7 linked regions of the Homo sapiens genome follow. The protein of the gene in region 3 interacts with the protein of the main gene of each other region in a pairwise test. Each region holds a gene or a part of one and is shown on either strand. Other genes may lie near its edges. The genes, in order: GNE, KIF1B, WWOX, PLEKHN1, C11orf87, PAX9 and ARRDC3.

Region 1 (3,500 bases), on a different chromosome or scaffold from region 3:
TTTTTTTTTGAGATGGAGTCTTACTCTGTTGCCTAGCCTGTAGTGCAGTGGCTCAGTCTCGGCTCACTGCAACCTCCACTTCCCGGGTTCAAGCGATTCTCCTGCCTCAGCCTCCTGAGTAGCTGGGGTTACAGGCGCACACCACCACACCTGGCTAATTTTTTTTTGTATTTTTAGTAGAGACGGGGTTTCACTATGTTGGTCAGGCTGGTCTCAAACTCCTGACCTCATAATCCGCCCACCTCGGCCTCCCAAAGTGCTGAGATTACAGGCATGAGCCACCGCGCCTGGCTCATTTTTATTTTTAATGCTTTTCTTATAGAATTGTTGGAATACTCAGATTATGAATGTTGGAAGCAGTAAGCCATAAGTACTTATTAATATAAGGGATTATGATGATTATTAAAAAGCAAAAGTCATAGTTGTAGCCTTAGAGTATATCTTTGTAAATAAGCCCTATGTTCCAAAATTTTTATTGTTCAGTGCTCTAGCTTCCTAGAAATTATCTTTTGCTAATCAGAGGTAAAAAAATCCAAGTTTACAAACAGAATGTCAGTTGGTTAATTTATAGTAAGAGTACTACCTAGGGGACAAATTAGGACTAATAATCTATTTAGGACCTTTCATTTCTAAGAGGCAGATCTATTGAATTATAAAATTAATGAACAGAAAATTGATTTGGTTGGGTCAGGTATGGTGGCTCACCCTGTAATCCCAGCACTTTGGGAGGCTGAAGTGGGAGTATTGCTTGAGCCTAGGAGTTACAAGGCCAGCCTGGGCAACATAGCAAGACGCTGTCTCTACAAAAAATAAGAAAATTAGCTGGGCGTGGTGCTGTGTGCATGTAGTCCTAGTTACCTGGGAGGCTGGGATGGGAGGGTCACTTGAGCCTGAGTAGTTGAGGCTACAGTGATCTGTGATTACACTGCTGCACTCTAGCCTGGGTGACAGAGTAAGACCCTGTCTCAAACAAAACAAAACAAAAAAAAACAAAAAACAATAACAAAAAAAAAACACAGAAAGAAAAAGAAAATTGAATAAGCAAAGAGATTTTGTATATTTTTAATCTAGATTACATTACATCAGGAAAGGAATTGGGCTTTCCTGCTATATAACGTACTCCATTCTACATATTTCTGTTGTTCAGTCTGGAGTGCAGTGGTGCAGTCTTGTCCTCCTGGGCTCAAGTGATCCTACCACCTCAGCCTCCTGAGTAGCTGGGACTACAGGCATGTACCACCATGCCCAGCTAATTTTTAAAATTTTTTTGTAGAGATGGGGTCTCACTATTTTGCCCAGGCTAGTCATGAATTCCTAGGCTCAAGCAATCCTCCTGCCTCGGCCTCCCAAACTGCTGGGTTTATAGGCATGAGCCACCGCACCTGGCCCATTCTAAATATTTCTTATGCTTGGACAGATTTGTAATTATCAAGGGATCGTCTAGATAATGCTGGTGGAACAACCTTCTGTCTCTTCAGTCTCTCCTTTTAGTATGCTTCCGATGAAACACTCTTGGATTCTGTTCTAATTATACCATTAGCTCTCTAGGTATTCTGGAAAACTTGTATCACTGAAAAACTTGTAATGAATAGAAAATAATAATGTGCCAGATGTGGTGGCACATGCCTGTAATCTCTGTACTTTGAGAGGCCAAAGTGGGCAGATCACTTGAGCCTAGGGGTTTGAGAACAGCCTGGGCAACGTGGTGAAACTCTGTCTTTACAAAAAATACAAAAATCAGCCGGGTGTGATGGTGTGTGCCTGTAGTCCCAGCTACTCCGGAGGCTGAAGTGGGAGGATTGCTTGAGTCTGGGAGTTCAAGACTGAAGTGAGCCATGATTGTGCCACTGCACTCCAGCCTCGGTGACAGAATAAGACCCTGTCTCAAAAAAACAAAACACTAGTTTTGGCCAGGTGCCAGTGGCTCATGCCTGTGACCCTAGCACTTTGGGAGGCCCAGGCAGGTGGATCACTTGAGGTCAGGAGTTGGAGACCAGCCTGGCCAACATGGTGAAACCCCATTTCTAGTAAAAATACAAAAATTAGCCAGGTGTGCTGGCACATGCCTGTACTCCCAGCTACTCAGGAGGCTGAGGCAGGAGAATTGCTTGAACCCAGGGAGGTTGCTGTGAGCCGAGATTGCACCACTGCACTCCACACTCCAGCCTGGGTGAAGAAGCGAGACTCCATCTCAAAAAAAAAAAAAAAAAAAAAAACAAGCATAAAACCCAGGCCAGATGCGGTGGCTCACACCTGTAATCCCAGCACTTTGGGAGGCCACGGCGGGCAGATCATGAGGTCAAGAGATTGAGACCATCCTGGCCAACATGGTGAAACCCCATCTCTACTAAAAATACAAAAATTAGCTGAGCATGGTGGCGCACACCTGTAGTCCCAGGTACTTGGGAGGCTGAGGCAGAAGAATTGCATGAAACCCAGGAGGCGGAGGCTGCAGTGAGCCGAGATCGCGCCACTGCACTCCAATCTGGCAACAGAGCGAGACTCCGTCTCAAAACAAAAAACAGCAAATAACCATTAGAAAGCAGAATGTAGCAAAATTGAATTGTACTTGTAGGGCTTAAAGTCCTATTTGGGACAATTTAAGCAGTTCTTTATGGAAAGAAGGACAACAGAACAGCTAAAATTGCTTTTTTTTTTTTTGGTCTTTAAACCAGTGAAAAAGAAAACTCAAGACAATGAGGCAGAGCCATCCACCACTGGGCAGTAATACATTTTATATAAAACCTGTTCCTGCTTCTTGATATGCAACTTCTTTTTTTTTTTCTTTTTTTTGAGACAGAGTCTTGCTCTGTTGCCAAGGCTGGAGTTCTGTCACCTAGGCTGGAGTGCATTAGCGCAGTCTCGACTCACTGCAACCTCTGCCTCCCAGGTTTAAGCAATACTCCTGCCTCAGCCTCCTGAGTAGCTGGGACTACAGGCGCACACCACCACACCTGGCTAATTTTTGTATTTTTAGTAGAGATGGGGCTTCATCATGTTCGCCAAGTTCGTCTCGAACTCCTGACCTCAGGTGATCCGCCCTCCTCAGCCCTCCAAACTGCTGGGATTATAGGCATGAGCTACCGCACCTGGCCTTAATATGGAACTTCTCATGCTATCACTCTGCTTACAGGAAGATAGGGTTGGGTAGGCCATATATAACATTGCAGCTTTGTAACCAGAGTGTTAATATATAACAATCTTAATTTTAAAATTAGCAATGTTAAAAAGGCATGTTAAATTCCTAATAATGAAAGGCATATCACAGTAAATATAGGACTTTACAACAGAAAACAAAATGCCTTTATGGAAAGGATTTATGAAAGGGCTGAGGCTGCTGAATTATGGATAGATACAAAGACTGGTAATAATATCAGAAGTGCCAGGTGGAGAAGCAGGTGCAAACTTTGTATGAAATGTATTCTTGCCAGGGATGAGTTGCTCTGGCTCATTGTCTTGCGTTTTACTTTTCCCTGGTCTAAAAAGACTTCTAGTTTTTG
Region 2 (3,500 bases), on a different chromosome or scaffold from region 3:
AGCATCAATGAAAACAACTGCTGGATTCAGAGGGAGACTTCCAGGTTTATGCCTGAAAGCTATATTTCTTTGATCAAAGGGAGCTGTAACAATCACAAGGTCACTACCCAGCATTATTATTTTTTTTTTTTTCTGAGGCAGAGTCTTGCTCTGTCACCCAGGCTGGAGTGCAATAGCGCGATCTTGGCTCACTGCAACCTCTGCCTCCTGGGTTCAAGCAGTTCTCCTGCCTCAGGCTCCCAAGCAGCTGGAATTACAGGCATGTGCCACCATACCCGACTAATTTTGTATTTTTAGTAGAGACGGGGTTTCATCATATTGGCCAGGCTGGTCTTGAACTCCTGATCTCGTGATCTGCCCGCCTCGGCCTCCCCAAGTGCTTGGATTACAGGCGTGAGCCACTGTGCCCGGCCTGCCCGGCATTATCTTAATCATAACAATGACCATCAAGTTTATCACCAGAAAGTGAAACACTCCCGCCTTGTGGAACATTTGTGTATGACATGGCACTAATTCCAACTGTACCACCACCATCACTAATGCCAAAAGCAGAACTGAGACACTCCTAGAAAAGAGCTTCCCTCCCAACAGAGAAAAAACAGTGGGCAGGAATCCTGCTGTGAGGAGCTACAAGCATCCCACCGCCTGCTGCCATCACGGCCCACGGCCAAACCCTGGGGTCCCCTGAAGTCCACCAGAAGCATCCTTGGCATTTCCCTTCACACAAAGTCAAGAGCAGCCACTGTCCCAGGCCCACTGAAAAAGCCTCTCGTCTCCTCTCTACCAGTAAATAAAAATTCCATAATTATGCCGTAAAAAGCCCCAACTTTGACTCAGAATATAACTGTTGCAGTTCTATGCTCACTACCACCTTTTCCCTGAATGGAAATGCAGGGATTAGCCATGGCAAAAAGAGACAGAGGGGAAAAAAAGACTCTTTTTTTCCTCTCAGGTTCTAAAAAGGCCAGATGTCTCCTCCCTTAGTCTCTAAGCCACCCAAGAAAAATTAAAGTGATATCACAAACAGAGAAAAGAAAAAAAAAGTATGTTGTCTTGAAAAACAAAGGTGCCTGGTGACAGCAGCACAGACATCAGAGGTGGTCATGATGGGGACCTATCATACAAAAGGAAGCCAAAGTACACCCACAATAATTTGGAGATTCACCAGATCCCCTCAGAGTTTTTGTGTTTTTGTCTGTGTATGTGTGTGTGTGTGTGTGTGTGTGTGTGTGTGTTTAAAAACATTTTTTCCTTTTGTTAGGCCACATGCTACTAACGAGATTCTCAGCACAAGAAAAAAGAAAAGAGTACAGAGCAATGGAGATGGGGAACGGGAGAGCTAGAAAAGTGCTGGACAAGGAGGGAGAAGTAGTTAAGCCACAGGATTACATACAAGAGTCACCGTCAAGAATCACAAAGAGAAATGAGAGGTAACGCTTTCTTTATCTCTCGAAGGCGAGTGAGGGCACTCGGCAGAGTCACTTAGTATTTCGACTGGCTCGGGCATCTGCGGGAAAGCTTTGACCTATGGGGGACAAACGGGGAGGTAGGATTAGAAGTCTGGGTACAAGTCTTGTCCCCTCACAGTCCTCTCCCTCTGAGGCTCCCTCCTGGAGCATCTTCCTATTTGGCACCGCAGGCCTAGTCCTCTAAGCCGTCTACTCCGGGACCCTGTGACACAAGCCCTCAGAACGTGAGGCTGAATCACAGGGCTGGAGGTTGGGAGACCATTAAGGTTCTCACTGTCCTCCCTTTACTCTCTCCCCTGAGCCCCATCTTTAGAACTCTTGAGAACAAAAAGACAAAGAAGGAAAATAATTGGTGCACATGTGTGACCAGAGTATCCCTGGTGGTTCAGAACATGACAATGCCTTACAAGATGCAGAGGCCTCATTACCACCCCACAACCAATTTACACTCCTGTCCTTCCTCTCTTTTAAATTTATTTTGAAAAATACTTCCTTTCAAGCCAGATGTGGTGGCTCACGCTTGTAATCCCAGCACTTTGGGAGGCCGAGGAGGGTGGATCACCTGAGGTCAGGAGTTCAAGACCAGCCTGGCCAACATGGTGAAACCCCATCTCTACTAAAAATACAAAAAAAAAAATTAGCTGGGTGTGGTGGCGGGCACCTGTAATCCTAGCTACTCAGGAGACTGAGGCAGGAGAATGGCTTGAACCTGGGAGGTGGAGGTTGCGGTGAGCCGATATCATGCCACTGCACTCCAGCCTGGGCCACACAAGAGCAAAAACTCCATCTCAAAAAAAAAAAAAAAAAAAAAAAACAAGAAAAGAAAAAAGAAAAGAAAAATTCTTCCTTTCCTATTTATCCTGATATTCCTGAAGCCAAAAGCCAAAGAGAGAAAGAAAACACAGAACAACTTCTAGGCTGGGTGCAGTGGCTCAGGCCTGTAATCCCAGCACTTTGGGAGGCTGAGGTGGGTGGATTACTTGAGGTCAGGAGTTTGAGACCAGCCTGGCCATTGTGGTAAAACCCCGTCTCTACAAAAAATACGAAAATTAGCCAGGCAATGGTGGCACGTGCCTGTAGTCTCAGCTACTGGGGAGGCTGAGTCAGGAGAATCGCTTGAACCAGGGGGCGGAGGTTGCAGTGAGCCAAGACCAAGCCACTGCACTTCAGGGAGAAAAAGTGAGACTCCGTCTCAAAAACAACAACAACAACAACAAAACTTCTTACCGTATTGTGCCAGCTAGAAGTGGGTTGAAGGCATACAACCAGTCGTTCATGTCTTTGTCATTGAGGGCCTGCAAAAGGACCCCACGGTGCTTTGTGCAGACAGCAAAGGTGTTTGGTGTCTGAAAGAAAAATGCAGGTAGACAAGAAAGTTACTACAGAGACAGCAATGGGGACTGCCTTGCCATATTCCCAAGGCATATAGCACTTCACAAAGGAAGTTCAAAACCAGAGAGAATAGGGAAATTTCACACCACGTAACAGAGAGTGCAGAAATCAAAAGAGAAGGGCACACGTGGCAATAAGAAACCAAGGCAGGGCAGGACGGACCTTCACCATGGCCTGCTGGTCCTCACTGTACTCCACCTGTGCTGTGGACAGGTTAATGATTCCACGCTCCACAGGGTCTTTGTCACTGTTATAGATGAAGACATAAGGCCGACGGACGACAACAAAATGTTTAGCCCAGTTACTGTAAAGAGGCTCCTTGAAATGAAGGTATCCTTTCTTAGAGACCACTGAGCTAAAAACGACAATATGACAAAAGTTAGTTTCTCACAAAAAGAAAATAATCGTGCTGAGGACCATCAAAATACGCCACACTTAGGCCAAGTCCTTAGATTCGATGAAACAGGCAAATGACCTATTTGGCCTAGAATCTTATCTGCCAAAGTAATACGGCAAAAGCGAAACCGTGCCATGGCAACATGCTGCGCCAGGGTGCAGATGCATTATGAGACCCAACTGGAGAAACCCAGGCTGGCCCTCTCACCCCAGACTCAACTTGCATCAGACTACAGTACAGAT
Region 3 (3,500 bases):
TAATATCACCTGGGAATTCAATAAAAATGTACATTCCCAGGCCCCCACCCCAGACCTACTGAATCAGCACTGGGGTGGGGCTTGCAATCTGCGCTCTAATAGTCATCCAGGGGATCCTGATGTTCCCTAGCTTGAGAGCCTCCCGTCTAGAGCAGGGGCTGTCTCCTTTGCCTGTAAAGGGCTAGATAATATGTTTTAGGATTTGCAGGGCATATGGTTTCTGTTGCAATGATTCAACTCTGCCTTTGTAGTGCTAAAGCAGCTATACACAATATACAAGTGATGGGCGTTGTTGTGTTCCAATAAAACTTTATTTACAGAAACAGGCAGTGGGCCAGATTTGGCCAGCTCCTGGTCTAATCTAGAGGAGTAAGCAAGGGCTTTGGGGGGAACCTGGAAATTGGCTCCCCTGGCTAGTTCTCACTTTTCTGAGCCTGTTGCAGTGGGGTGCTGGTAAATGTTTAGCACCAGGTCTTCAGGGGGAAAAAAGCCACTGTTTGTTTCCACAGTATAAATACTTTGGCCATAGCTGATTTCATGCTGCCAAGGTGAAGTGAGGAATTGGGAAGAGATAGTCACGTTTGGCTCTTGTAAGCCAGTTTGAGCCAGTCTAGCATAGAACTGCTCTGTTGTGTGTGTATAATATTGGGGTCACAAATTAAGGTTGTTATAAATAGAATGAGGATGAGGATGGTAATAATTAGAATAAAGGTTGGATTATTACTCTTGAGTCTTGGTACTTATAGGGAGATGAGTATATATTTTAAACTAATTTTACACACACATACTTTTAAAATATGAAATTTCATCTATATTTAGAGGCTTCTTAATAGTTTTTAAGATATTCTGAGGTCTTTATCTCATATCCCAAGAATACATTTAAGATATAAAAAGTAAATTCTATTATAAGGAGTACTCTTTTCATCCATATGTGCCTTTTTTTTTTTTTTTTTTTTAATGGTTACCCAGGGTCTTGGTCTGTCACCCAGGCTAGAGTGCAGTGGCACAATCATGGCTCACTGCAGCTTTGATCTCTTAGGCTCACGTGATCATCCTCCTACCTCAGCCTCCCAAGTAGCTGCGACTACAGGCGTGTGCTATCACACTTGAAATTTTGTTTAGTGTTTGTAGAGATGAGGTCTAACTATGTTGCCCAGGCTGGTCTTGAACTCCTGGGCTCAAGTGGTCCTCTTGCCTTGGCCTCCCAAATTGCCGAGATTACAGGCGTGAGCCACTGTGCCCAGCCTCCAGTATATTTTAATACCATTTCTACAAGATTTAGATCAATTCCAAATCAAAATGAGTGCTCGTAGGAGGTATGAGTGCAGAGTCTTAAAATGAAAATCGTTAGAATTTTGGTAGTTGGCAGGTTTCTTATTTACAACTAAGACTTTATCATTTTGAGTTTTCTACTTCTCTACGTCTTTAGGCCCTTGCACAGGGCTAAGAGATTTAATTGAAATCTACTGAAAAGAGTGGCTGACAGATCTTATAGCTACATTTACATGAATTACATAAAAGCCCAAAACCTTCTCAAGAAGCCTTTTTTGAGATCTAAGGATACATGGCAATAGTTATTGTATGTTACAGCGTATGTTATAGGCAGTTCTGAAGGAAAGGATTCGATGACTATCTTTTTTTGGCACAAATGTGATCCTTCTGGAGGCCAGAAGATAGATTCAGTGGGCCCCAGTTCTTTCAGGTTTAAGGAATAAGCATTTTGGTCTATGAAAAATGGGGTTTTCCTAAAGTATAAGATTGTCTTATATTTATAAATGCCTGTGTTCATTGCTGTGGGTTCACTGCTTTCTCTTTTGGGCAGCCATATAAATAAAAGAACCACCTACTTGGACCCAAGACTGGCGTTTACTGTGGATGATAATCCGACCAAGCCAACCACCCGGCAAAGATACGACGGCAGCACCACTGCCATGGAAATTCTCCAGGGCCGGGATTTCACTGGCAAAGTGGTTGTGGTCACTGGAGCTAATTCAGGAATAGGTAGGCTCTTCACTTAGTTATTTATCTTTGGGACTGCTATAATGAGATCCACTTAGATCTAGCTATAATGGAATTTTGTTTAGTGGTTCTCTGATTTAAACATGACTTTTATCCTTTTCAGATATCGTTTCATTAACATCACTACCTCTTTTTAAATCCTAATGTTGTCATGGAAGCCTGTGTAGGGGCTGACCTTGAAGTCTCTGAAAGCTGAACACTCAGCAAAAGACTGTGGCTATTTTGGTATTCAGGGATGAGAGACAACAGGCTCCGTCTAAGAGTTTTTGACCTGGTCTGCATGGTGTATGGGCATATTCCAATTACCTGGGTTATTCAAACCAAAATTGATTGGTAATAGAATACGGGGAACAACAAGGTATTATGTCTTTGGAACAAAGGATACTACAGGTTTCGACTGGTCACTGAGCATATCATTTTCTTTTGGGCACAGGATCTTATTTCTCTATAAAATTGGAGAATGAGTTCCTGTCTTCACCTCTTAATTGCCAATGTTTACCCACAGGGACTATCATGGGTAGATGGCTCAAGAGGGTATCCTTGCTTCAATATGATGGGCCATTAAGGAGACAGGAGCAAGGCGGGAGCAAACCATAACTCTTCATAGGATTTTATTCTGATTTTGCTTTGATCTATTTACATAAGTATCTGAATCAGTGAGAACCACCTGCTTTGAGTTTAGATATGCATCTTCAGATTTGTCGACATATGAAACGTTGCATTTGGCTGTCTTCTGTCAAGTTCTCTCTGTCCTTTTGGTCCCCCGCAGCCCTCACACGGCCCCCTTGATGCCCTCCTCTACTCATTTGTTTCTCTTTCCTAATTTTGTTTTTATTTTTATTTTTTGTGGGTATATAAAGGTGTCTATATTTATGGGGTTCATGAGATGTTTTGATACAGGGATGCAATGTGAAATAGTCACATCATGGAGAATGGGGTATCCATCCCCTCAAGAATTTATCCTTTGAGTGATAAACAATTCAGTTATACCCTTTTAGATATTTTACAATGTGCAATTAAGTTATTATTAACTATAATCAACTTGTTGTGCTATCAAATAGTAGGTCTTATTCTTTCTTTCTATCTTTTTTGTACCCATTAACCATCTGCACTTCTTTCTTAATTTTGAACAATTCCTTGAAGCTGCAGAAATATTTTCTAGCATGATTAGGGAGGCACAGGAGGTAAAAATACATTGTTCAAGGGTCAATTATTGTGTTGTACAAGGTGTGAAATCTACCAGGTTGCCATCCGAGTGGAGAATTTTTTTACTGTACTTGCCTATGAAGGTAAAGAAGCAAATGGAAATTTTTTTTTAAGAATTGAAAGGATTTTATTTCAAATCAACTCTCATACCTCATCCTGGGCTCCAAATATGTTCAATCCACTTGTCTGAACTTCTGCATTGGAGTAAATTTTATATAATTGTCATTGAAGTCAAAACTGATGGCGTAATATTTAAAACAATGGCTGGATCCCCA
Region 4 (4,226 bases), on a different chromosome or scaffold from region 3:
CCCGAGGACCAACAAGTGGGTGGCCGCATCCTGCATGTTCACCCGGCGCAGCAGTGTGGGTGTGGCGGTGCTGGAGCTGCTCAATTTCCCGCCGCCATCCTCCCCGACGCTGTCCGTGTCCTCCACCAGCCTCTGACCCACCTACCACCAGAGGCCTGCAGCCTCCCACATGCCTTAAGGGGACCGTGGCCCCCACCAGGGACGTCCTGCGCCATCCGTTCACGTCTCTGCATCCATTCCTTCATGTCTTTATTTAGTTGTTTATTTATTTAGTTATTTATCTTATTTATTGAGGGGTGAGGAGTGCCACGGCTGCCCGTTTACACCTTTAGCGTCTGGTCCTCCTGCGTGTCCTCCCCTCCACTGCCTGCATGGGGGGCGCGGGGAGTGACCAGGCGGGGGCCTCACCGCCCCAGGGCCGTTGCCTGCTCAGACCTTGCAGGCTGTGGAGCAAGAGGCCCTGGGTCTCTCCAAGCAGCTGCAGACCCCAGCTCGAATTTTGCACATGGCGGGGTCCCGGGAAGGGTGGGGAGCAGTTGTCCTTCCTGTCGTCGTCTGCCGTGTGCCATCTTTCCTGGATCTTGTAGTGGGTGCACACGCGTGCACTGGGACCCCACACAGCAATACGAGTCCAACTTAATAAACACATTTCTGGGGTTCCTCAGGCTGAGCATCTCTCTCTGGCATGTGGGGCAGCTGCGCAACTTTGGGTCCTGTCTGGGGTCCAGGGTGAGGGGTGTGGGGGGGTGCCCTGAGATGCGCAGGCATCTGGGAGCTGCAAGGCAGAGCTGTGCGTCCAGGGAGGGTGGGGGCCGTGCAGTTCCTGTGGACCAGCGTCCCAGTGTGGGTGGCGTTTGCCTGGGCTGGGTACTGAGGCCGAGGTCCCCGCCACATCGTGGGCTCTGGGGTTAGGGCTGGGGAGGACAGCCTTGCCCCCGAGTGCGCTGACTGTCTTGGCCGTCTAGGGGGCATGTGGCCTCCCTGAGTCCCCTTAAGCCTTGGGGACCCTGACTCGGGTCTGTGGCGAGGGGGCCCAGGCAGGAGGGGAGGCTGCGGTGGCTTTGGCCGCCGTCTCCTGTGCTGGAACTCCTGCCTCAGCCCTCCCTGCAGTCACCGGTGACTCGGGCCGGCCAGAGTTTAGATGGAAACAGGATGTGTGGGCACGTTGTCCCGGGGGGCCTGGAAGGTCGCCCCGGGTTCACCAAGCCGGAGCACAAGCAGGTGGGGTACCTCTGCACACTGGAGGCCTCGTCTGGGCCAGAGGGGTGCTTGCCCCAAGGCTGGCCTCTCGAGTGGAGGGCCCAGGGCAGAGACCTGCACGGCTCAGGTAGGGGCCAGGCCTCTTCCAGAAAGGCTCCACCCTCGCCCAGGCCCTGGTGCCGGGCGGGACGTCCCGGAGCCCCGCCTGCCCGCGGGAGGCGGGGGCAGGAGGCTGTGGACAGGGACCCAGACTTGCCGACCTGTACGACTCTGGCCATGGGGAACAGCCACTGTGTCCCTCAGGCCCCCAGGAGGCTCCGGGCCTCCTTCTCCAGAAAGCCCTCGCTGAAGGGAAACAGGTGAGCGGGGCGTGGGTGCGGCCACCTGGGCGCAGGGCTCCCCCACCCGCTCCGGGGCCAAGCCACGAGACCCCTTGCCTTGTCCCCAGAGAGGACAGCGCGCGGATGTCGGCCGGCCTGCCGGGCCCCGAGGCTGCTCGAAGCGGGGACGCCGCCGCCAACAAGCTCTTCCACTACATCCCGGGCACGGTGAGCGCGGCGTGCACGGTGGCTGTGGTCTGGGAGCGTGGCTCTGCCCGCGCGTGTGTGCCGTGTGTCCGTGCAGCTCAGGGTCTTCCCCTCGCCCCCGGGGCGTTCAGACCCCGGTAGGTGAGGAGCCGACGCTGACTGCCCCGCCCTGGGGAGCTCATCCGGCCGAAAGTCTGAGCGGAGAGCGAAACCGCGACGCAGGACTGAGTCAGTCGGGAGAGAGCTGGGCGGGGCGGGCCGCGGGCGGGGCCTCCCGGGACCTCCTCCCGCAGGGGACCAGCGCACGTGTCTCTGTCGCTGCAGTGGGGCTTGGGGTCGTGCCGGCAGGTAGTGTCACTTGAGAGTAAGGGGCCTCAGATGAGCAGCGAGCCAGCCGGTCACCTACACCGGCCTTTCTCCCTGGGTGTCCCGCAGGAAGTTGCCGCTGGGTATGGCCGCCTGGTCCACAGCAATCCCTCTGTGCACGCGCCGGCCTCCTCCCAGCTTGCCAAGGCCATGCAGCAAGGAGGTGTCTCCCAAGCACACACTAGGCCACCTCTCCGTCAAAGGAGCAGAAGACCACCCCCATGCCCACCCCCCCCCCAGCCCCTGTGGGACTAAGGGTCTTCACAGGGTAGATCCCAGCCCCTTTCAGATGTGTCTGGTGCTGGGATGAGGGAACAGGACCAGGAACCTGGGCTTCAGGGCAGACAGGAACCCCCACTGCACCCCCGTCAGGCAGCCTGGATGGGTGGGCTCCGCTATGTGCAGGCCCTAGGAGCATCTGCGGGAGAGGACGCCTGCCCTGCACTCCTGGGTCCAGCAGCTGGCATGGCCGTGCAGACCCCTTTGCCAACATGCCCCCGCCAGGCAGGAAGCTCGTGCCATACCCTCTCCTGACCTCCAGAGTTTCAGGGCTCCCTGCAGACAAGTACTGGTTTCGGAAACCACGCTGCCTCAGAGGAGTGGGCAGGGAGAGGGAGCCGGGCTGGGTTAGGGGTGGGGTCCCTGTGGCTGCATCTCAGACACCACTCCCTCTGTCCAGGCCCAGGACATGCAGTGTGACCCTGGGGGGTCCTATGAGGTGTGGTGGGTGGCCGTAGTGGTCCTCCCTTGCCAGGACATGGTAGCCACAGAGGCAACAACCTGCTGAACCTCGGGAAATGGGGCTGGGGGAGGAGCTCTGGGCCAGTCCTAGAGCCAGTGCTCCGCGGCCCTGTACCTGGGCTCTGCACCCAGTGCTGTGAGCTGGCTCTACTACGGCTCCAAGCTGAGTCCTCCCCGGGGCCCCGAGGCTGAGCTGCGCTGCAGGGCCAGCTGTGTGGCCCTTCCTGGTCTGTGGCCTATTTTTCATGGGTGCCAACCCGGCATCAGTTCCCACGCTGGGTGTGGGTACAGGAGGCCCCACCCAGAGGCAGAAGGCCGGGAAAGCCATGCGTCTGTCTGTTCACATTCCTGGGCCTGCTCAGGGGCAGCTAAGCTTGGCCAGGGCACAGCAGCTCTGCAGGTAGCTCTCGCCAGCTCCTAGAAGGAGGAGGACACCTTCCCACTTGGCCCTGAGCCTGTGGATCACAGAGGTCTCCAGCCCCAGGTTCACACCCGTCCCTTTTCTGACTTCCAACCTGGTGATCAAAGCCTGCATTTGTAGAGGACTGTGTGTGCCAGGATTGACTACATGTGGCGTGGATGTGGAGTCCCCTCCCCTCTCAGCACATGCAGTGATACCCACAGCACATCCCAGGCCCTGTCTTAGGCTCTGGGGACACAGCAGTGAACGGAATAGACAACCCCTGTTCTGCTAGTGCTCCCATTCCCACGGCAGAGACACACGACGGGACAAATCAATAGATCCAGTGAGCGGGGTCAGGTCGGTGCTAAGGAGAAAAACAGAGGGGATGAGTGCAGAGGATCAGGGAAGGCTGGAATTTTAGAAAGGCTTTCAGAAAAGGAATTCTTGGAGCAGGTAATGTCTGAGCAAAGCTGCAAAGCGGGTAAGGAGGGGGGTCAGGACTGAGCGGTCCCCAAAGCAGGAACAGAACATGCAGCAGCCAGAGAGCATGGGTCTGATGTGAGGAGACAGTGAGGCCGGGGCAGCCACAGAGACCCCTCGGGGGAGACCCCTCGGGGCACTGCCAGGACCCCGTTGTCCCCTGAGTGAGGCATACGGAGCGGCCAACACACAGAGGATCGACCCCAGAAATCTCCTCACATATTTCAGGCTGGGGGCTGGAAATGGGCAACGGTGAGGACACTGACACCGAGGAGATTGGCAAACGTTACAAATCAGGGCATCGGTGTGTTTCTGTGTCTGTTTTTTGTAGAACCAGGTGTTAAGCATTTACCATACAATACTGCAGACGTGGGAGGGTTTTGAGTGTTACCCAGACACCCCCAAATTCTTCTAACAAGTCTTCAGAGGTTGAATAACCCAAGCCATGTTACACAGCTTAGGAAAGAATGAAGATGGGTTTAATCCACTGAGTCCAGATCTCACCATCT
Region 5 (3,958 bases), on a different chromosome or scaffold from region 3:
TTAAAGATTTTAACGTACTTATGCTCGGCCAGCGAGGGTCATTTTAAAAAGTAAATTAAATGCTCTGTCCTGGAAAATGTAATGGTTAACCAAAGGGTGAGAAATGGGCGGACTGGCGAGGGGTACCTGTCATAAACACTTTCCGGGGACTATTCTCTATGGCCTCTTGCAGTCCTGGTGCTTAATGTAGACATTTTCTTTATAATATACTATTGCCTGAGCCCGGCTGAGGGTGGGAATGGGGAGGAAAGGGAAGCTAAAGGAAAAGTGAAAGCTTAGGGGTCAGAGGGGAAGGAAGGAAACTAAATCTTAACTTGACAGCTATGTACATTACCGGGCCCCCTCCCCTCCCTTTGCTCCGGGAATCAATGCCTTTTATATATTTGGTAGCTTGTGCGGTTTCTCCTCCTAATTGAGGGGAGCGCGGGGTGGAATGGGAAGATGCATCCTCCATTGACAGTTAGAAATTATGTGATTTGTCATGCGCTTGGATTGTGTTATTAGTATTATAATAATTACTATAAATATTAATAAAGTATTATTATCAGCGTTATTTCTTCTTCCGAGACTTTCCTCGCCCAATATTTACAAATACCGCACAGTGCCTCGGCGGAGGAGAAACAAGAGTAAGGGGAGGGCAGGTAAGGAAACCAGGAAGAGGAAAGAGGGGCCAGAGGAAAATGGAAAAGGAAGGAAGAAGGAAAAAAGCAAGGGTGGCAAAGATGCTGGAAACGAGGACGGGGAACGAGAGGGGCTAGACGATCAGGACAGTACCACCGTTTGCAAAAGGCCCTCGCCAGCTGTGTCCAAACAGGAGGAAGCTGCGTGTGCTCCTTGGGGACTGGAGGCTGGCGGTGGAGGCGGAGGAGCACAGGGACCCTGGCACGGGAGGCCAGGGGACGAAGAGGACAACGACGAGGCGTTGGAAGGGGCGCAGAAGGGAGAGTCCCGGGGCTGCCTCTCCAGCCGGGTTTCCTTTGCGTGGGTTGGGGCCTGCCTGCCAGGTCGGGGCAGCCCCCCGCCACCGCGGCTGCCGCTGCAGTGATCCCGCTCATATTCCTCCTGAGCCCTCTGCATCTTCCGCTTCTTCATCCTACGCTTGTGGATGTGGAAAGTGGAGAGGGACAGCACGATGAGGCAGAAGATGAGGGTAACCAGGACAATCAGCACCAGCGTGGAGGAGAAGGACTGGAAGAGCTGCTGTCCCACCTGCGTGATGCAGGTGCCGCTGCCTACTGCGCCTGGGCCGCGGGCACCCGTGTTGCCGCTGCCGCTGGCGTTGGGGGAAGCAAAGGTCCGGTTGAGGAGACACGGCGGCAACGCCAGCCTCAGCTCCTTCGGCGCCCTGGCACTCATTGGCGCGGGGCTGGGAGGGGCCAGGCCCACTAGGCTTCCCCTCTTGGGCACACCGTTCCTACCAGCCAAGAAGAGGACGGAGCCCACGCCACCCAAAACTGCTCCCTGTAGCGGGAGGGGGTGTGCGAGCGAGCCAAGGACTAAGGGAGCAACTGCTGGCAAGCAAGGCGACCAAGGAGTGAGCGGCGCCCGAGAGATCCTCGCCGATACCACCTCGAACACGTCTCCACGCTCCCCTTTCCTTTGCAGAGGCACCAGGCTGCAAAGACACAAAGCTTAGTTAGAATCTCGGCCGCTGCCCAGGGGAGTGCTGTCGGGAAAGATCAACCACCACCGCAAAGCGGCCCTCTGGGCACACTGCCTGAGCTGGGCGCTGCCTGTATTTTCGGTCAGCGGACCCCAGCCTGCCGGCCCGTGGCCGTGCACCAGAGCCACCAGCAGCCTGCTCATGCCACTCGACAGGATGGGGTCTGCGCCGGCACCGCGGAGGTGCAGATTACTCAGCAGATAAGGCAGCCTCCCTTCCGCCCTTCACAACTTTATAATTGCAACAGACACGCAGCCGCTTTGGTTGAAGTCCCTACTTCCCAGAGCGCCGGCTCTCCTCTTTTCTGCGCCCTCTCGGTTGATGTCTTCGCCTGGATCCTACCCTTCCCAGCACCCACTCCGGGCCGCCGCGCGGGCTCCGGGTACGCAGTCCTCCCTTCCTTTCCCTCCCCGTCCAGACTCGCCCTCCCTGGACAGCGTCAGATCCCTTGGGTCCCATTCCCAGGGGGATACCCCTGGCACCACATCCCACTCTGCCTCTGTCCGCGACCGCGGCTGACGCGCAGGAACGCGCTCCATCTCTTCTCCAGCCTTCTTCCCTGGTATTCTCCCCTCTCCAAAAAAAAAAAAAAAAAAAAAAAAAAGCAGCTGAAGCATCTTTCTCAGCTGACACATTCCCACAAACGGCCCCCTCCTCCCCATTTCCCTGTGCCCCCAACTTGGCAGTAGCCTGCTTCTTTCTAGAGGAGCTGGAATGGAAAGGGGAGGGTTCCCGCCTGCAAAGTTTGGGGAACGGGACCTTCTTTCTGTCCTTCCCAGACCCAGCCCAAAGGCCCCGAGGCTTTTCCGGCATACTGGAGCCGGTAGACCCGCAGCGCACAGGAGAGCCTCCTTGCTGCTCCCAAGAGGCAGCTGCAAACTGTTGCACTGCGGAGTAGCGAGGTAGCGCGCAAGCAAGCCAGGGCAGGGGCCGGGGGCAGGGGCGGGGGCTGGAGCTATGGCCAGGGGTGGCTGCTCAGGCCGCGTGAGCTGTCCTCCCCACTCGCACCTGGCCGTCAGGCCACCCGGCCATCAGAAGCCTTTACTCACACCTTGTCTCTTACCTGGACCGCCGGCTGGCTGCAAGGAGGGAGCCCCCGCCGCGCGGCTGCAGTGGCGGCTGCAGAAAGCGTGGAGTGAATGGACCAGAGACCGAGCCGCGCTGCTGCCGCCGCCGCCGCCGCCGCCGCCGCCTTCGCCGCCGCTTCAGGGAGCTGAGCTCGCAGCCTATTGCCAGAGAGGCCGGTGACGTCAGGCAGCCACCGCCAGGGCTCCAAGCCACCCCTCAGGCCCCCACCCACCCTAGTACCCCAACACCTTGTCCTAGCATAGCGAGCCTCTGACACACACTTCCCAGTTCCCTGCCCTTCTCCAGCCCAGGAACTAGGAGGAGCAACCCCTACCTCCACCCTGCAAGCAACCCACCTTTCTCACTCTCTTGCCTAGGAAGAGTTGAATCTTCAGTTCTCCAGCTGTCTGATTTCGTTCTAGAGCTGACCCTTTGGTCCCAGAATCACATTTTTACACTCTGGATAGCCATCTACCATCGGTGCACACATCACCGGTGGTGATGAAAATTTCCCCCACCGCTAATTCCTCTCTGTGCTGCCCGTTTCTGAACATAAACTGCGTGCATTAGAGAGATGGCAGGGACGTTTCTCAACATAAGTGTGACAGAACCCAAAACACAAACCTGAACAAATTAAACAATCCAAATTAGCCATTTTTCTCCACTGGAGTTTCCAAGTTATCTTTCGCTCCATCTGATTCAAGATCCTCCTTCTTGCATCCCTCACATCTTCATCTCCAGGCCCCAGACCCACTCAATGTATTAAACACTCCTTCTATTCTGACAATCTAGACACTCATGAGCACACAAACCCTAGTCTTACAAGGAAGAAATATGAAATTATTCACAGGAAGGCAGAAATGAACTGCCTTATGAAAATTCCAAGTATTTGTAGCTTGCACAAAGTACCCCTTCATTGACCCTAATTCTTGGTAAAGTGTTTGGAGCACAACTTTTAGCAAAATACATAGAACTTCCAGAAAAGAATTCAACAGCCTCCCTAAATCTTGGAAGAGACTAGTTAACTATTGGTTTAGGAGCCTTGGAAAAATATGAATAGTGCATTTGGTTACAGAATCCAGCTTTGAAATGGAGTATGCTCATTTTTCTGTTGGAGAAGCTAGCTGGGAACAGTACCTAAAGACATTGCATGGTCTTTGAAGGCACTCAGGTGTCTTACTAAACGTGCGTTTTCTTCTTTGCTCCCTGTCTTCTTTTCTATCTTTG
Region 6 (3,500 bases), on a different chromosome or scaffold from region 3:
CCGAGAAACCAGTGCTGTCTTGGCATCCAGTGAATTATTGTTGGTATCGTTACTATTAACAACACTAAAAACACCCTGATTTTTAATCCTGATTCTGGCATGAACACTGGGCATCCTTCTTCAAGTAGTCTAATTTTTTCCCCTCAATTTTTATACTCTTTAGAAATAAAGTGTAGATGCTGTGTCCTGATAGTTACATGAATGAACTACCATTTCAATATATTTCCTAGTGAAAATACGATGTAAATACTAGAATTTTATGAGGAAAATTGATTTAATCCTTAGAATTAAGTTAATCAGATGTATGTTAGCTAGGTACTTTTTCCCGTTCAATTGCAACACAGGAATTACTTTCTAATTTAATTTATTTGGGCTATTGTTTTCACTTCTACATCTATGAGAATGCAGTGGTGCGGTCTCAAAAACTATTTTCTCAATGCAGAGTAAATGAATATGTACATGGAATAGAATACATACGTGGGTATGACAACATTACTCATGCATTTCTGACAAAAAAAGAAAAATATTAGAGGGGTTAGCCTTGTGTCTATGCTCTGTAAGAACAAACACCTCATGTTGTGTTTTTCAATGTTGGTTCTTTGAAAATAGGGAAAGAGAAAGGAAGCTAAAGTTTCTTAAGTGTGTCCTATGTCCCAGGCACCAAGAAATATCCAACATATTTTACTGAGTAATGAGTATTAATGAATTATATAGTTCATTATAAATGATTGAGTTTATCATAATTACAAGATAGTGTGTCACAAATACAACACAATGTTCAACTGAAATTAAAGTGTATTTTAAGGGTCCCAGAGAATGATGCTGCTGCATTTTTTAAATCAAGAAACTACCGCACATAACTGTTGAATACAAATGAAATCTTATCCTCTTTTTATACAAGGATATAGATTAAGAGGTTTAGCCATGTACCCTCAACCAATTGGCAAGCCAGTGGCCATGTGTTAAAAAAATTTATCACCCCTGCCCAATGCAGGGTCCTCTGTAGCATATCATACTGTTTTTCCTGAACACTTAAAAGATAGATGCAATTTAATTTAAAACTAGTGCATCTTTTGAGATAACATCTGGTAACAAATTCTTTTCTCTCCTAGAACATGATTCTCATTGTCAGATCCCTTCTAAAAAAAGAATAGTTTCTTCCACTTTTTGAGAATGGCTGATTATGTCTCAAAGGAGACACACTTTAAGGCTCTCAGGAGATGGGTATCAAGATAGAGAACTATCAAATTACAGGGGAAAAAATCTAGTTTTGCATAGAGATTATAGTTTTAATCATTTTTATTTAGAATTGTCCCAATAATCTATGATAAATGAGTTTGGAAAGAAATAAATCCAATTCAGTTATGGAAAGGTGTTCACATCTGTATGTGGTGTTAACTAATATTTTCATTTCCAGCATTGACTAATGTTTTATACTACTGATGCCAATGTGAACTAAGAATAATGAAATAAGAATGCTAACATTAAAATTACTTCTAAAATAATAAAAATCTTTGGCCAACATCATATAGGGACATAAAGTTAAAAAATTTAATATTATACATGGCAGAAACAATGTTCTAGTTAGCAGAACAGAACTGTTGGCGAGTTCTATTTTTCATCACAGCTAAATTTTTCCTACCCATTCTTTTTTCTTTGTATTTTATCTATCATTCAAAATTACAGTTCTCTCTGAAATCCTTGCTTAGTCATCTTCCCTTTTCTTACACCTTTGCCCTTGGAACTCTTGCTCATTGATCTGCCCCATTTACTTGGACTCTTCAGTTGTTTTGTTGCAATGTCTATGGTCCCCTTACATGGACCCACTTGGAAGATGGCCCTCAGAGACATGCTGCATTGAACTTTTATCTTAGATAATGTTCCTGGAATTTAGGGGCAGGCAGGACATTGGATTTAGGCCTGTATTAACTTCTAGTGCCTTATTTATTCCATGATTACATTCATTTATCAAGTGTAAAAAAATGAGCAAATTTTTCCATGTTTGTCCAACTTCTCATACTTAATGCACAAACTTGCTTTATGTCATTATTCTTAGTACTAAATATTTCAAAGTTCTCTTAAATCCACAATATTTATTTAGTATCATTTTAGTGATGCAATCCCTTTGTACTGCAGAAAGACAGGGTAGGAAGAGAAGCTCGGAGATGGTTGATTTCATCTCATAGAAAAAGGCGGCCGGGCACGGTGGCTCACGCCTGTAATCCCAGCACTTTGGCAGGCTGAGGCGGGCGGATTGCCTGAGGTCAGGAGTTCAAGACCAGCCTGGCCAACATAGTGAAACCCCGTCTCTACTAAAAACGCAAAAATTAGCCGGGTGTGGTGGCAGGTGCCTGTAATCCCAGCTACTTGGGAGTCTGAGGCAGGAAAATTGCTTGAACCCGGGAGTCGGAAGTTGCAGTGAGCCGAGATCGCATCATTGCACTCCAGCCTGGGCAACAAGAGTGAGACTTCATCTCAAAAAAAAAAAAAAAAAAAAAAAAAAAAAAGGAAGAAAGAAAGAAAGAAAAAAGAAAAAGGCAAGGAGAGGCTAAAACGTTTGCTTAAAAAAAAAAACAAACATAAATCTTTAAACTTAAACAGTATAAAAATAGCCCTTAGTTTTCTCTCAGGTTAAATTATGACCCTAGCTTGGGGGTCTGGAGAGTTTTGTCTTAATTTTACTTTTTACTTTTGAAGCTCAGATTTATAAATTTAGAAAAAAAAGGAGCAAGTAAATGTGCTTTAAAATTTACCTGCCTCCTGCCACCTTCATTATTTATTCATTTTAGTGACTCAATAAACACATCAATTTTCTCACTATTAATTTTGACACATAACATTAGTAAAAGATATAAATCTCTACTGGGTCAAGTAATTGTTATTTATGAAGCAATCACTGAAAAAGTAAAATTTTCCACCGCAAAGGAAAACAACTACAGGTAGCATTGATGTTTGTTTATTCTTTCCAGTAAAAGAGTACATGACTTAAACGTCCCAAATCGGTTTAATGTTTTCAGTGAAGGGCATGTAATTAATCTGAAAAGCTAGTTAGGCTGAGTAGAGACTACCAAATCTACACTATAAATATAGTGGGAGCAAACATGCTAAATTACTCTATTTAATTGGATTGTAAATATGATTTATAAATCAACCAACATACGGAATCCCCAGGGAAGAGTAAACAAATTTTCCAAATGAAACCCCAGCAATGGGCATGTAATGGAAATCTCATTTTTGAAAATGACTTTACCTAAAGATTCCATAAATAAGACTTCAATCCATCAACTCCTTTCTCATGTGGATCTTCCATGAAAGGCATGAGAATTCTTTCCCCTGAAAGAACTGTGCAAGGGTGCTCTCTATAGCAAACTATCTTCTACCTAAATTTGAGAAGGAGATTTACTAATACAAAGCAAAATAGACTAAATTGCATACCCTAGAAAAAGTAAGTTACTGCTTTGTTTTAATACTTTTAGGAAAAGACCAACTTCATCACACTG
Region 7 (3,500 bases), on a different chromosome or scaffold from region 3:
CCCGGCCAGCAGGCTAGGTTGCGCGGGCACGGGCGCGAGCGCCGCGCGACGTATGCCGTATGTATAGCGGGGCGCGCGGGCGGCAGCGGCGGCGGCGGCGGCGCGCGGGCAGGCCGGCTGGGATCTGCTCGCGCCGGTTTAGGCCGGTCCTCTCCTGCTCCGGTCTAGTTCTTGATTGACAGCCCGGCACTTGTTTACCACGGCGCGGCCGCCGCCGCTCGCTTCAATGAGACTGCTGAGCTGGCACAAAAAGGGAGCGAAGAGGGAAGAAAGGGAAAGGAAGGCGAACTTCGGGCGCCTTCGAGGGGAGCGAATTTAAATGGCCCCCAGCTCATCAGCTAGTTTTTGGTTCTGAAATCCGTTCAGGGGAATTTGCACAGGGGACGAGGAAAATTGTATGGAGACATAAGCGAATCACCATGATTTTTAAATGAAAGTATCGACGTATACATGCTTTTTTCCCCCTTTTTCTCGTTTAATATCAGGGAGGCATCACGTTTTTTGTGTATATCCAATACTTTGCTGAAGGAAAGTTAAATAATGTGCCAGTTTTTTCTACTCTGGGGGCTAATCGTAAAGGTTTCTACACCAAGAAAACTTTAAAAGATATTTCTGTAATTATTTAAAACGCTAAATAGGCACTTTAATGATCTAGAACCCCCTCCCATATTTTCGATTATATTTATTTTCATGCCACTTGAAAAAAAATAATTTCACCAAAAAAATTGGTTGTAAAATGAAAGGTCATCCCTTTTTTATAGAAACTGGAAACTATTAATAGTTAGACTTCATTTTTTTCAAGGATGTTGGAAAATATTGTTTCCTTATAAGCCGACACCACCTAAATGCGGTTCTTTGTAATTATCTAAGGTATAGTTTATGCAAGTTTTAGTCGTTGCTAGGACCAACTGAGTGTTGTGATCATTTTAGATCAATAAATAATTATTTTTAGTTCAATAAATAATTATTTTTAGTTATAAATCTGACATTAAAATCAATGTGTGGCTTTTTTTTTTTTTTTTTTTACTCCGTCTATTTGACAAGGTTTTCTAGTGGTTTTGGAGTATCTATTCTATTCACATCTGGTATTATTATTCCCTATAAACTGACATATTTTAAGAGGGTTGCATGAACAGTTTTTCTTTGATACATTATAGTCTTAATGTGATAAATTTAAGCAAACCGTTGGAGACAAAGGATAGCATTGTCTTACCATGATGTGAGACCCGAGCCTTTTGAGTATATATACTATTTTATAAACAGATGCTTTGCAGTTTGGGTCATTTTCCATTAGAAAAAATAAAAAGCCTGTGGGGTGTGAGTATTCATTATCCCCATTTTACAGATAAGGCAGCTGACGACAGGATTTTTATTTTGTCCAGAGGAAATGATGAAGTTAGAATTAGAACTCAGATCTCTCAGACTCCAAAGCTTGTTTTGTGGTCTTAATTGTTATGTAAGCATCTTTAAAGTTATGCCACCCTGCGGAGTATGTAAATGTTGAATAATAAATTCTTTGTTTTCTTTTTATGTTTGTTTTAGATGATGATAATTCCGAAGAAGGCTTCCACACTATTCATTCAGGAAGGCATGAATATGCATTCAGCTTCGAGCTTCCACAGACGTAAGTATTATAAATAATAGGCATTTTTATAGATACTTATGATCAGAGCATTATTTTAAAATTAAGTATTCTAAATTTAAACATTTTTAGTTGAAAAAAAAACCCTTTTCATTACTGAAACTTGCTAGAGGAAAACAATATATTAAACATAAGAAGCTATTTTTTAATCTAGCGTGGCAAAATTATAGAAAGCATACTCAATTTTCAGTATTCTTTCCTAAAGTTTATGAGGTTTTTAAAATAGGAATAGGGTTTCCTTTAACATGAGTGAATTGGAAGTTGCTAGTCGAATAATAACCACTTTATACTTAGTTTATTATCAATTATCATTATGAGAAAAGATAGACCCTATCAAGTCTTAGTAGCTTCAATTTATAAAAAATTCTATATTCTACTTTTTCTGCTAATACTAACCAATAGCAGTAAGTTTCGAAAATAAAAATAATTAGGAATATCCTAACTTTAGAAATGTTTTTCTTCTGATATGAACTTAATAGCTTCTGTACAAAGAACTATTGGGAAGGTCACACAAGAGATATGACCCAGGCTTAAAAGGAAACATGCATCAAGGATACATTAATATAAAACTTGGAATCTAGTAAGAAAGGAAAAAGGAAAGTGGTATATTCTTAAAGTAATGACAGATTGTTGGAAGAGATGATACAAACTTTTTAAAAAAAAATGCCTTTTAACAAATATTAAAACCTGCAAAATGGCACTTGTGGTGATTATTCTGGAGAATAAACAGATTACATAAGATTTTGTCAGGTGACAAATGTACATTAATTCTGCATTTGTTAATTCTAGTGCTTGAGATGTTATATATAGAGAGAGAAGTCATAAATGGTATTTTTTAGAAAATTCTATTTACTGTATTATTTGAGAATTTTATTTGGAATATAATGCCCTCATCTAATTTCTGAGAAAAATATTAAAGTCTGTTGATAGAATAAGGCCAATATGGGGCCTGAGTATTTTCAGCGTCATTTAATGTTAAAGTTCTATCCATAAACCAAAGTCATTTAACATAAATTTTGGATAACTATTAGCATACAGTTTAAGATTTTATTTCTCTGCTATACAAGTTAATGTGGGAGTCTAAAATGCAAAAAAAAAAAAAAATTATGAAAACACCAGTGTTTCTTATGCTAATCTAAGCTAGCACTCTTGTAAATAACTGAACATTGAGTATTTTACTAATGAAATTATGAAAAAGATACTGAACTTGCTAAAATAAAACCTTCCACAAGTAAAATCTGACAGAGTTAAAAAAAATTTTTTTTTATTCTCTTGACATAGATCAAGAGGACTATATCTTTTTCTTTTGAAGCCCGTAAAGTTAGAGAACAGCCAAACAAGAATTAGAACATGAGTAAACTGAGAGATACAAAAGTAGTTTTTCAGTAAACTTAGGAAATGTGAAATTTTTGAAACTATAATGACTATTCCAGGCCTTTTCTAGACCTTAGTTAGTTGCTATTAAAAGATGATAATTCCCGGCTAATGAGAAGTGGAGTACTATAGGGAATTTGGTCTGAATGTTTAACCAGTGTCTAGAATTTATCAGTAGAAATAGTTAAACCATTCTCAACTTTGTGTTTGAATTCTTGGCCTTTTCAAAAAATGCCCATTAAACTTTCATGATTTTGCCACCATCATTAAAAGTAGCCTCCTCTTAGTTTAAATGGATTGTATTCTTCTGGCTTTTTAAAGCAAAATTTTAAAGATATTTATTGTTTATTCTTAGTTGGAAATAGGAAGTTTTTTCCCCAGTGACTTATCCCTTTGGAAATTTTTTAAATTATATGTTTGATACCTCATTGGAACATAAACAATACAATATATTAACACTTCTATTCTGACCTACTGTGTAATT

Evidence for each region.
Region 1: the proteins of WWOX (region 3) and GNE interact in binary tests that used the Homo sapiens proteins (3 or more experiments, as listed by UniProt).
Region 2: the proteins of WWOX (region 3) and KIF1B interact in binary tests that used the Homo sapiens proteins (3 or more experiments, as listed by UniProt).
Region 4: the proteins of WWOX (region 3) and PLEKHN1 interact in binary tests that used the Homo sapiens proteins (3 or more experiments, as listed by UniProt).
Region 5: the proteins of WWOX (region 3) and C11orf87 interact in binary tests that used the Homo sapiens proteins (3 or more experiments, as listed by UniProt).
Region 6: the proteins of WWOX (region 3) and PAX9 interact in binary tests that used the Homo sapiens proteins (3 or more experiments, as listed by UniProt).
Region 7: the proteins of WWOX (region 3) and ARRDC3 interact in binary tests that used the Homo sapiens proteins (3 or more experiments, as listed by UniProt).

The regions. Positions count from the first base shown.
Region 1 is NC_000009.12:36,241,449-36,244,948, reverse strand, and holds part of GNE (bifunctional UDP-N-acetylglucosamine 2-epimerase/N-acetylmannosamine kinase), read left to right. Parts: intron 1-3,500. UniProt on the Homo sapiens protein: Bifunctional enzyme that possesses both UDP-N-acetylglucosamine 2-epimerase and N-acetylmannosamine kinase activities, and serves as the initiator of the biosynthetic pathway leading to the production of N-acetylneuraminic acid (NeuAc), a critical precursor in the synthesis of sialic acids.
Region 2 is NC_000001.11:10,374,570-10,378,069, reverse strand, and holds part of KIF1B (kinesin-like protein KIF1B), read right to left. Parts: intron 3,217-3,500; coding exon 3,024-3,216; intron 2,816-3,023; coding exon 2,697-2,815; intron 1,526-2,696; coding exon 1,483-1,525; 3' UTR 1-1,482. UniProt on the Homo sapiens protein: Has a plus-end-directed microtubule motor activity and functions as a motor for transport of vesicles and organelles along microtubules.
Region 3 is NC_000016.10:78,113,154-78,116,653, forward strand, and holds part of WWOX (WW domain-containing oxidoreductase), read left to right. Parts: intron 1-1,822; coding exon 1,823-2,001; intron 2,002-3,500. UniProt on the Homo sapiens protein: Putative oxidoreductase. Acts as a tumor suppressor and plays a role in apoptosis. Required for normal bone development. May function synergistically with p53/TP53 to control genotoxic stress-induced cell death.
Region 4 is NC_000001.11:965,056-969,281, forward strand, and holds the start of PLEKHN1 (pleckstrin homology domain-containing family N member 1), read left to right. Parts: upstream 1-1,426; 5' UTR 1,427-1,476; coding exon 1,477-1,559; intron 1,560-1,648; coding exon 1,649-1,748; intron 1,749-4,226. Other genes in the region: KLHL17 (kelch-like protein 17), read left to right, coding at 1-136. UniProt on the Homo sapiens protein: Controls the stability of the leptin mRNA harboring an AU-rich element (ARE) in its 3' UTR, in cooperation with the RNA stabilizer ELAVL1.
Region 5 is NC_000011.10:109,421,032-109,424,989, reverse strand, and holds the start of C11orf87 (uncharacterized protein C11orf87 precursor), read right to left. Parts: upstream 2,801-3,958; 5' UTR 2,727-2,800; intron 2,553-2,726; exon of another isoform or gene 2,423-2,552; intron 2,212-2,422; exon of another isoform or gene 2,123-2,211; coding exon of another isoform or gene 1,941-2,122; intron 1,616-1,940; coding exon of another isoform or gene 1,357-1,615; coding exon 763-1,356; 3' UTR 1-762.
Region 6 is NC_000014.9:36,671,860-36,675,359, reverse strand, and holds part of PAX9 (paired box protein Pax-9), read right to left. Parts: intron 1-3,500. UniProt on the Homo sapiens protein: Transcription factor required for normal development of thymus, parathyroid glands, ultimobranchial bodies, teeth, skeletal elements of skull and larynx as well as distal limbs.
Region 7 is NC_000005.10:91,376,818-91,380,317, reverse strand, and holds part of ARRDC3 (arrestin domain-containing protein 3), read left to right. Parts: intron 1-220; exon of another isoform or gene 221-870; intron 871-1,542; coding exon 1,543-1,624; intron 1,625-3,500. UniProt on the Homo sapiens protein: Adapter protein that plays a role in regulating cell-surface expression of adrenergic receptors and probably also other G protein-coupled receptors.